Linked DNA regions of Homo sapiens: region 1 is linked to region 2. A link means that fine-mapping ties the variant in region 2 to the expression of a gene that starts in the linked region. Tissue or cell type: whole blood. Region 2 holds a variant in brackets; the other region holds the start of a gene. All regions are shown on one strand. Distances are between the middles of the regions.

Region 1 (5,115 bases), 59 kb after region 2:
TAACTGTGTGATCCTTATTATATACAATTCTAGAAAATGCAAACTATAGTGACAGAATACAGATCCGTGGTTGTTTTGGAGACAAGGAGGAGTGGCAAGGACGAATCACAAGGAAACTTTTGGGCGCTGGATATGTTCATGATGCTGATTTTGGTGATGATTTCACAAGTGTGAAATACACCCAGCACTCACAAAAAAAACTTATCAAATTGTGTACTTTACATATGTACGGTTTAATATATGTCACTTACACTTCAATAGAGCTGTTAAAAATAAATTATTTGTAAAGATGAAGCCTGCGTGTGTGAGGAGAAAGAAGCAATGGAGGAGAGGAAGAAGGAAGCACTCAGAAAGTCTTATCTCAGCTAGGGGTGAGTCTGGGGAAGTGAACACCAGGGAAGAAGCTGGAGCCTGGACTCAGTCCTGGTGCCCACACCCCTTCCCTCCCTCTCCCCTTCTGAGTCCCCTTCTGTGTTGTCACTTGGGCTTTAGGAGGTGTCCTAGGAGGTTTGCCTCTGCCTTGTCAGTGGAGCTGGACCTTCTCATCTATTTTCCATCTGCATCCTCTGCCTTTCATGGTTCCTGTATGGGGCTCCCTTTAAAAGCCTTATAGAAAATGTGTTAGCCCCAGTCTCCTCTACTGCAAAATAGGGGCACTCATATTTTTCTCGGGGCTGCTGTGAGTATTAAATAGAGAAGTGGTGAGGCTCAATCCTGGGCCAGCTACGTAATTTGTGAGGCCAAGTGCAAAACGGGAATGCAGGTCCCTTGTTCAAAAACTATTGAGCAACACAGCAGAACATTAAACCAAGCATGGGGCCCTTCTAAGCAGGAGGCTCTGTGCCACTATATAGAGGGCACACCCAAGAACCAGCCCTGACTCAGCTTGAGATGCAGCTGGACTCAAACATTCCAACTGACTGGTTTAAGCAACTTCTCTTATTTTCCATCTATTCTATTGCAACAATCATTGGGAATATTTTTTATTCTGAGTAGTTTAGATTTCTGATTTCCTAGTCTAGTGCCTAAAACATAGCAGACACTCAAAAGTACCTGTGGAATGAGACCTAGCAATTATGATTCACATCTTAGAATTGAGGAAATCAGCTTAGAGAATTGAAGTGGTGTCTTGAGTCATACGGCCAATGAGTAAGGGAGCACCTAGGTCCGACCCCACACCTGGGTTCTGCCAGGATCTCTCCTGGGGATGGCCACCCCGGAGGACCAAAGATGTCATGGACAGAATCTAGATCTCAGTAGAGCCTGGAGCAGAGGCCCAGATGGGCAGGAGATGGAATGAGCCCACTGAGAGCCAAGTATCCCTGCCTGGTAGATCAGAGAGTTCTGGACTCAGAGGCTGAGCTATATATTCAGGGGTCTCAAGACTCTGGAGCTAACCTGGCCTGCCCCTGAGTTAGAGGAAACATGGGAATGATAATAATAATCGCCAAGAGTTATCAAATCTTTGTTATGCCAGGCACTTATGGGTATTATCTTGTTAAATTCTCCTAAGAAAGTCCCAAGGTGGGTCCTATTTTTAGCTCCATTTTACAGTTGGAAAAACTGAGGCTCAGAAAGAAATTACTTAAACTGGTTAGTGGTGAGGTTTGAGCCTACTGCGTCTTAAGCTGAGCCAGGGCTGGTTCATGGCTGTGCCATCTATGTAGTCGCACAGGGCCCTGTGCTTAGAAGGAGCCCATGCTTGGTTTACTGCTCTGCTGTGTTGCTCAATACTTTTTGAACAAAAGACCGCAGTTTTCATTTTGCAGTGGGTCTCATAAACTATGCAGCCGGCCCAGGGCTGAGCCTCACCACTTTTCTATTTAATACTCACAGTAGCCCTAGAGAAAGGTCCCATGAGCGTCCCTGTTTTGTAGAAGAGGCTCCTGGGGCTAAAAGAGCTGCAGCATCTGACGTGGGCATAGGAGCAATCAAGCTGGAAGCCAGTGGGTGTGAGCGCAGAGCCTGGGAGCTTATCACTTCACTACGCTGCTTCTTGGGACACTGGGGGTGCCCTCTGCCGGAGTCAGGCAAATTTTCAGTGGACCCCTCTTTACTCTATCTTCATGGGGTCAAGCTTCTTCAGGCATGGCAGAGCACTTAGTGCCCCTCTAGGGACTGACCAGCCGGGGGTGGACCCTGTTCTATCCTAGACCCCACTTACCTGAGGGGACAAGGACCAGTGCCAGCAGCAGGAAGCAGGGAGGCAAGTGGGCCAGGCAGGTGGGGGCCGACATCGTGGAGCACATGGCATCTTCTGTGGTCCCCAAGACTTGGGGCTCCTCTGCTCTCTTGTGAGTGTTGGAGTCTGAGGCGGGGCCCGTGGACAAGGCAGTTTCTGCGTCTCTTGGCCACAGCTGCTTGGGGAAGTGTTTTCATTGCAGCAACACAAGGCTGTTGGTGCAATAGGAAGGAGCCCGGTCAAAGGGTTTCCTGCTTTTGTGTCTGGGCTGTGATTCCTGTAGTCACTGTGCTAAAACCTTGCCATAGGCTCCATCCTAGGTGCCCGGGAGGGAGGTGGGCACTGAGGTCATAGGACGCACTCCAGAATCGGGTGGAATTTGGAGCAAACATTGGATCTTCCTCTTCTTGGCTGTGCAAGATTTCAAAGTCACTTCCCATTTCTGAGCCTTTTGTTTCTTCATCTGCAGCGTAGGAACAACGGCAGTTCCCTCCTCAGAACAGTTTTGGTAAGATTATGAGAAATAATGTGAGGGCACAGAACAATGTAAATGCTAAACATATTAACCATTATTATTCATGATGTGCAGAAAGTAGAGGAGGTGACATTGCTTAAGAAGAAGGATTTATTATAAAGCAAGCCCCATGGGGGCCTCCTTTTAGCACTGCAGGGAGGGTACAGGCCTAATTCCTAAAAGTATAATCATGTGTAACTCTCTCAGCCTCTGTTTCCTGGGGTCCAAGTGAAACATACTCAGATTGTGCAAACATTTGCGTTTGTGGCATCTTTGTTTCCTGTAAGTGATCTGAACTTCCTCAGGAGCCTCCTGGTGCTGGCTATCAAGAAGGAAAAGCTTAATCTTGCCAATTCATGCAATCCAGGCAATCTCTTTAGCCACACTGTCTGGGTTCAAATCTTGGCTTTACTCAGTCTGGCTGTGTGACCTTAGGACAATCATTTGACCACTTTATGCCTCGGTTTCCTCATCTGTAAAACAGGAATAAAAATGTGGTAGCATGTGTGGGGTGGAGTAAGCACTCTATAGGCTTTCACCATTGTCTTTTAGGTTAACTCAGTCTTTTAATTAACTCAGGGAAAAGTACAAGAACAACTCAGCCTTTCATTATTTCACTTCCTCCCTCATGCTTCAGAAGGTTCTGGGTGCAGAGGAAGCTGAAGATTCTCCAGCAACAGGGTGGCAGGCCTTGGATCTGAGTATGTCCCCTGGGTCCCAGAGGTCTGGTGTCTACTATGAGGAGGTTAGTCTGGCCTGGTCCCCAAGGACTTTGCACTGGGTCTGTGACTGGTCTTTTCTAGACTTTTGAGGCCTTGCATTGATACCCCTGCTCAATTCCATTACTCCCTCTACTTGTTCTCCTGTCAATGAGATCTATATAGTGAAACTTCTTTGAAAGGGCCACAAGCCTAGATGATTCCACCAGACCCTCAGTACTTTCCATGTCATTCTTACACGGGAATTTCTGAATCACCTGCTCATCTATGCAGATTTCTTTCTCAGCTATTGTTTTTTTCTAAAGTTTTACTTACAAATAATTTTATTTTAATAGGCAAGGCATTGTATTGGTTAGCTATTGCTGCATAACAAAGCACCCCAAAATTTAGAAGCTTAAAAACTAAATGTTCAGTTAATTTACTATTTTGTGGGTTGACAATTCAGTCAGGGCTCCATTTGGTGGTTCGGTCTTCTCATCTCAGCAGATTTTGGCTGGGAATGTTCATGCACTTGAGGTCAGCTGCAGGTTGGCTAGGTGGCTTTGTTACTGCGGTTGACTGATTGTTAACCCAGGTACCTCAGCTGTCCTCTATGTGGTCTCTCATCTTCCAGGACACTAACTTAGTCTTGTTCTCATGAAAGGGGCAGTTTTGAGAGACAGTGCAAGGTACAAGGAAACTTCTGCCATATTCTTTTGGCCACATCAAGTTACAAGACCAGACAAGATTCAAGGAATGGAAAATAGACTTTGCCTCTTGTTAGGGAACTGCAAAGCCTAATTGCAAAAGGTGTGGATACAAAGAGGGGGTATAGAATTGTGGATATTTTTGTGATTTATCTGCCATGGGCATCTACAGGTACAAAATTCAGAGGTCTCAGTGTCTCATTTATAGGGCTCCCAGACATTACTTTCCTTAGGGTTAACCACAGTCACCAGTTTTTGAAGACATTCATTTCCTTTACTGTTTCTGATCTAGTGCTCAGAAGCCAGGTTGAATATGGTTTCTTTGTGATGTCGTGGACTATGAACACCCTGGGAAGACAGGCCATGATCCCTTATGCTGTAGGAATCCCTAAACTCCATTCCCACCCCACCCCAGCATTTGGACCTCAGGACTGTGGGGTTGGCAGGACTCTAGCATCTCAACCCCTGTCTTCTCCCTCTTTTTCTTACTTCCTCACCAAGTCATAAGGGGAGGAGTTCCCCTTCTTTTCCTTCTGGTAGGGACTTTCCTAATCTCAGTCTTCTTCCTAACAGCTGGCCTTCTTTGTTCTAGATGGAATCCCTCCTGCCCCTTCCTCAAGACAGCAAGTCTCACACTCCAGCTTAGAATAGGAAAAAAGCTTCCAGGGAAGGAATTAAACTGCTGGGAGGTGGAGAAATGCAAAAGGAAATAGTTAAAAATGTTATATCTGTCACGTCATCTATAAAACACATGAAATGCGATTGCGCGTGAAGCACTGGCTTGCGATAATTGCTCAGTAACTAGGAACAGTGGCATTCCTCCTGGTCAGTGTGCTTGGGTATCACATGAACTATAGTGTCTATTACTAGCCTGAGTTAAGTTATCCTCAACAAGAGCACCCGAGGTATATATAGAACACAAGTCTACCCATAAAGCTTTTTTTCCTTCCACTACAAAAATGGAACTTTGTTAAAACAACAGCTTTTTGATTGTTTACCATAAAATGGAAAACA
Region 2 (5,207 bases):
TAATTTGACTGGATTATGGGATACCCAGATCTATGGTAAAACGTTATTTCAGAGTGTGTCTGTGAGGGTGTTTTCTAGATTAGTATTTGAATCAGTGGATGGAGTAAAGAAGATCATCCTCCCCAGTGTGGGCAGACATCATGGATGAACTTCGGTGTTGAAGGCCCATTAAAATAGAACAAAAATGTGGAGGAAGTGCAAATTCTCTCTCTTTTTCAGCTGGATCACCTTCTCCTGCTCTCAGACAATGGAGCTCTTGGTTCTCAGGCTTTTGGACTCTAAGGCTTATATCAATAGCCTCCCACCCCCAGATTCTCAGACCTTAGGCCTTGGAGTGGGAGTTACACCACTGGCTTCCCTGATTCTCAGGCTCTCAGACTTCAACTGAATTACATCACCATCTTTCCTGGTTCTTCAGCTTGTAAATAGTATGTCATGGGACTTCTTGGCCTCTGTAATTGCATGAAACAATTCCCATAATAAATCTTCTCTATATGTATTGCATTGGTTCTGTTTCTCTGGAGAACTCTGACTAATATAATTCCTAAGAGTGGAATTTCTGGGTCATATGTAATTCTATGTTTAGCTTTTTGAGGAGCCACCAAATTGTTTTCCACAGCAACTTCCAACAGTGACAAGGGTTTCTTTTTTCTTTTATAGGTTCAGTATTCTTTATTATAAACAATCAGACAACAGTGTAAGTGTGCATTTGATGGATAACCGAAGCCAAGTTATTATAATAGAAAGCATGACTTCGCTCAAATAGAGTTTCTTTGTTGTTGTTGATCTGTTTTACATTAATTTGAATTTAACATATGCTAGGATCACCTAAATTTGTCATACAGTTCTGCTATTAAAATTGTAACAGGGAAAGACAAAATGTGAAATGCATGTTATATTTTGCTTTATTTGTTGAATATCTATCTATCTATCTACACTAAATATTTGGGACACATTCAGAGTTAAGCAGGTGCTTAAAGTCTATCAAGTGATATTTATAAAATGTTTTTGTTGCTGTTATGGGAACATCCATATCCTTAGAAGCCAATAAAAAAGAGGATTCTAAATGCTAGGTGGTTGGCTAAATGTTCCTGATTTATACTGAGTGTAAAACAAAATAAAACAAAACATAAGGTATATGTGTTAAGTAGTGACATCTACATAGTTCCAAAGCACTGGCAACTATTAAAATATCATCCAGCTAAAACAAACTTTTCACAATTTTTTTTAACAGAAAAATAATAAACCAACAACAAAAACTGGTAAATGTTCTGGGTCTTGTGAGCAGACCAAAATGTTACTACAGTGTTCTCTATTGTGTGATCCCAGTGTACAAGTTTCTATTTCTCCATATCCTTATCAACATTTGCTATTTTCCATGTTTTTGATTATAGTTATCCTAGCGGGTGTGAAGTGGTTTATCTCTTGCAGGTGTTAAGTGGTATCCCACTGTGGTTTTCATTTGCATTTCTTTAGTAACAAATGATGCTGAACATGCTTTCATGTGCTTATTGGCCATTTGTATGTCTTCTCTGGAGATATGTCTATTCAGGTTCTTTGCCTATTTCTTAATTTTTTTTTTTTTTTTTGTGGTTGAGTTTTAAGTGTTCTTTATATATTCTGGATACAAGTCCATTATTTGCAAATACTTTCTCTCATTTTGTGGGCTGTGTTTCTACTTTCTAGATAATATATTTTATTGTGCAAATGGTTTTACTTTTTATGAAGTCTAATTTATCCATTTCTTCCTTTTGTTGCTCATGCTTTTGGTGTCAAATCTAAGAATCCATTGCCAAGTCTGAGGTTATAAATATTTACTCCTATGTTTTTCTCTAAATAGTTTACCCCTATGTTTTCCTCTTGTATTTGGGTCATTGATCCATTTTGAGTTAATTTTTGTGTATGGAGTGAGGTACGGGTCCAGCTTCATTCTTTTGCCTGTGATTATGCAGTTGCCCCGGCACTGTTTGTTGAAGAGACTATTCTTTCCCCATTGAGTTGTGCTGAACACTTATTGAAAATCAATTAGCCATAGATATTTATTTCTAGGCTGTCAATTATATTCCACTGGTGTATATGTCTGTCCTTATGTCAGTACCACACTGGTTTGATTATAGAAGTTTGGAGCATGTTTGGAAATCTGGAAGCATGAGCCCTGAAACTTTGTGTTTCTTTTTCTTTCTTTTTTGGTGTGTTTCTTTTTCAATAGTATTTTGACTACTTGGGGTTCATTCCAGTTCCACATAAATTTGAGGATTAGTTTTTCTATTTCCTTAGGAAATGCCATTGGAATTTTGATAGGGGTTGCATTGAATCTGTGGATCATTTGCAATTAATATTCCAATACATCAACATGTGTTGTCTTCCATTTATTTAGGTCTTCTTTAATTTCTTTCAGCAATGTTTTGTAGTTTTCAGCATAGAAGTCTTTCTCCTTGGTTTAAGTATTTTACTCTTTTGGATGCTGTTATAAATGGAATTGTTACTTAATTTCATTTTCAGACTGTTCATTGCTGATGCATAGAAAATGGACTTTCGTGCACTGATCTTG[C/T]AATCTGCAACTATGTTGAATTTGTTTATTGGCTCTAGTAGTTGTGTGCATTTTGGTATTGTTATATTTTCTATACATAGAATTATTTCATCTTCAAATAGAGATAACTTTACTGCTTCCTTTCCAGTTTGGAGGCTGTTTATTGCTTTTTCTTGCCTAACTGCTCTGGCTAGGACTTCCAGTACAATATTTAATAGTAGTGGTAAAAATGGGCATTCTTGTCTTGTTCCTGCTCAGTGGGGAAGCTTCTGCTCTTTTACCATTGAGTATAATGTGAGTTGTGGGTTTTGTGTAAGTGACCTTTATCATGTTAAGGAAGTTCTCTGTATTCTGATTTGTTGGTGAGTGTTTGTATCCTGAAAGTGTTTGAAGTGTTGAATTTTGTTGCATGCATTTAATGTATCTATTGTGATATCATTTCCCTCTTTACAGAGTTGTGTTACATTGATGGATTTTTTTTTTTCTTATGTTGAGCCACCCTTGCATTTCTGGGAGAAATCCCACTTGGTCATGATCTATAATCCTTTGAATGTGCTACTGGATTTGGTTTGCTATTTTGTTGAGGATTTTTTGAGTCTATATTCATAAGATATACCGGACAGTCGTTTTGTCTGCCTTTGATATCAAGGTAACGGTGGACTCATAGAATCATACCTTTGATATCAAGGTAACGGTGGACTCATAGATATTCTGCATTTATATTTTTGTAATCACAATTTGTAAAGAATTCTCAAAATCCAACAGTAAGAAAACAAATAATCCAATAAACAAAAAGGCAAGGACTCTTTTTTTTTTTTTTTTTGGAGACGGAGTCTTGCACTCTCACCTAGGCTGGAGTGCAGTGGCACCATCTCGCCTCACTGCAAGCTCCGCCTCCTGGGTTCACGCCATTCTCCTGCCTCAGCCCTCCAAGTAGCTGGGACTACAGGCACCCGCCACCACGCCCGGCTAATTTTTTGTATTTTTAGTAGAGACGGGTTTTCACCATGTTAGCCAGGATGGTCTCGATCTCCTGACCTTGTGATCTGCCCACCTCAGCTTCCCAAAGTGCTGGGATTACAGGCATGAGCCACCATGCCTGGCCGGCAAGGACTCTTAAAAATGCTTTATCAAAAAGGATTTATGGGTGGCAAATGGCATATGAAAAGATGTTCAGCATCATTAGCATCACAAGACATGCTAATGTCAAAACCATGACAAGAGATAACTACACACCTATTAAAATGACTAAAATAAAAATGCTGACAATACCAAGTGTTGGTGAAGCTAAGTAGCACCCAAAAATCTCATATATTGCTGACAGGAATGTGCAGTGCAACAGCCACTCTGGGAAATGATTTGACAGTTTTAAATAAAGTTAAACATACACTTACCATATAACCCAGCCACCCCAGACCCTAGACATCTCTAGAGTATTCACCCTAGAGCAGAGGTCCCCAAAACCTAGGTCATGAACCAGTATCAGTCCATGGCCTGTTAGGAACCAGCCGCACAGAGGAGGTGAGAGGCTGGTGAGTGAGCAAAGCTTTATCTATATTTATAGCCTTGCCCCACTGCTTGCCACCTGAACTCCACCTCCTGTCAGATCAGATCAGCAGCAGCATTAGATTCTCATAGAAGTGCAAACCCTATTGTGAACTGTGCATGTAGGGGATCTAGACTGTGTGCTTCTCATGAGAATCTAATGCCTGATGATCTGTCGCTGTCTCCCAACACCCCAAGATGGGACCATCCAGTTGCAGGAAAACAAGCTCAGGGCTCCCACTGATTCTACATTACGGTGAATTGTATAATTATTTCATTATATATTACAATGTAATAACAATAGAAATAAAATGCACAATAAATGTAAATGTGCTTGAATCATCCCGAAACCATCCGCCCTACTCCCTAAGTCTGTGGAAAAATTGTCTTCCACGAAACCTGTCCCTGATGCCAAAAAGATTGGGGACTGCTGCCCTAGAGAAAGGAAAATTTTGTTCACAGAAAAACCTGTACATGAATGTTTATAGCAGCTCTATTTCTAATTGCCCCAAACTGGCAACAACCCAAATATCCTCTAATGGTTGAACAGATAGACAGATTGTTGCACATTCATATCATGGACTATTACTTGGCAATGAAAAAACAATGAACTTTCCATAAGCACAACATATGAAAATTGTTCCTCCAGATGAATCTCAGAGGAATTATGCTAAGAGGCCAGTCTCCAAAGGTTAAATGCTGTATGCTTCCATTTACATGATGTTCTGGAAAAGACAAAACCACAATGATGAAGAAGAGATCAGTGGCTGTCAGGGATTGGGTTTGAGGGGTAGTGTGACTATCAAGGCATTGCATGAGGGAGGTTCTGGGATGATGGAATTGTTTTGTGTCCTGATTGTAGTGGTGGTTACATGAATCTATACGTGTGCTGAAATCTGTATAATTATATACAACATAGTTAATTTTACTGTATGATAATTTTAAAAATTAAATGAATTAGAAAATGGTTAACAGTTAATACTCACTCATATGGCCAAATGTATAACAACTCTTATGAGGCAGCAGTCTGGCAGAACTTATTTTCTGGTCACAACCCTGCTGACCAAAACAGGATGTGGTCTACACAAAGTGAAGAAACCGCAGGAACCAGCAGATGGTGAGGAAAGTGATC

Evidence for each region. PIP is the estimated chance that this variant, and not a neighbour inherited with it, causes the effect.
Region 1: it holds the start of SIRPB2, and the variant in region 2 is fine-mapped to the expression of SIRPB2 in whole blood (TOPMed, PIP above 0.99).

Annotation. Positions count from the first base shown.
Region 1 is chr20:1,489,111-1,494,225 of GRCh38, forward strand. It overlaps SIRPB2 (signal regulatory protein beta 2), which reads right to left and starts at 2,310. Exons shown (of 5, transcript NM_001122962.2): 1 at 2,165-2,310. The coding sequence starts at 2,249.
Region 2 is chr20:1,429,897-1,435,103 of GRCh38, forward strand. No RefSeq gene overlaps it. Among named protein-coding and RNA genes, the nearest start is that of NSFL1C, 34 kb to the right of the region's middle. The variant C/T (reference allele first, on the strand shown) is at 2,552.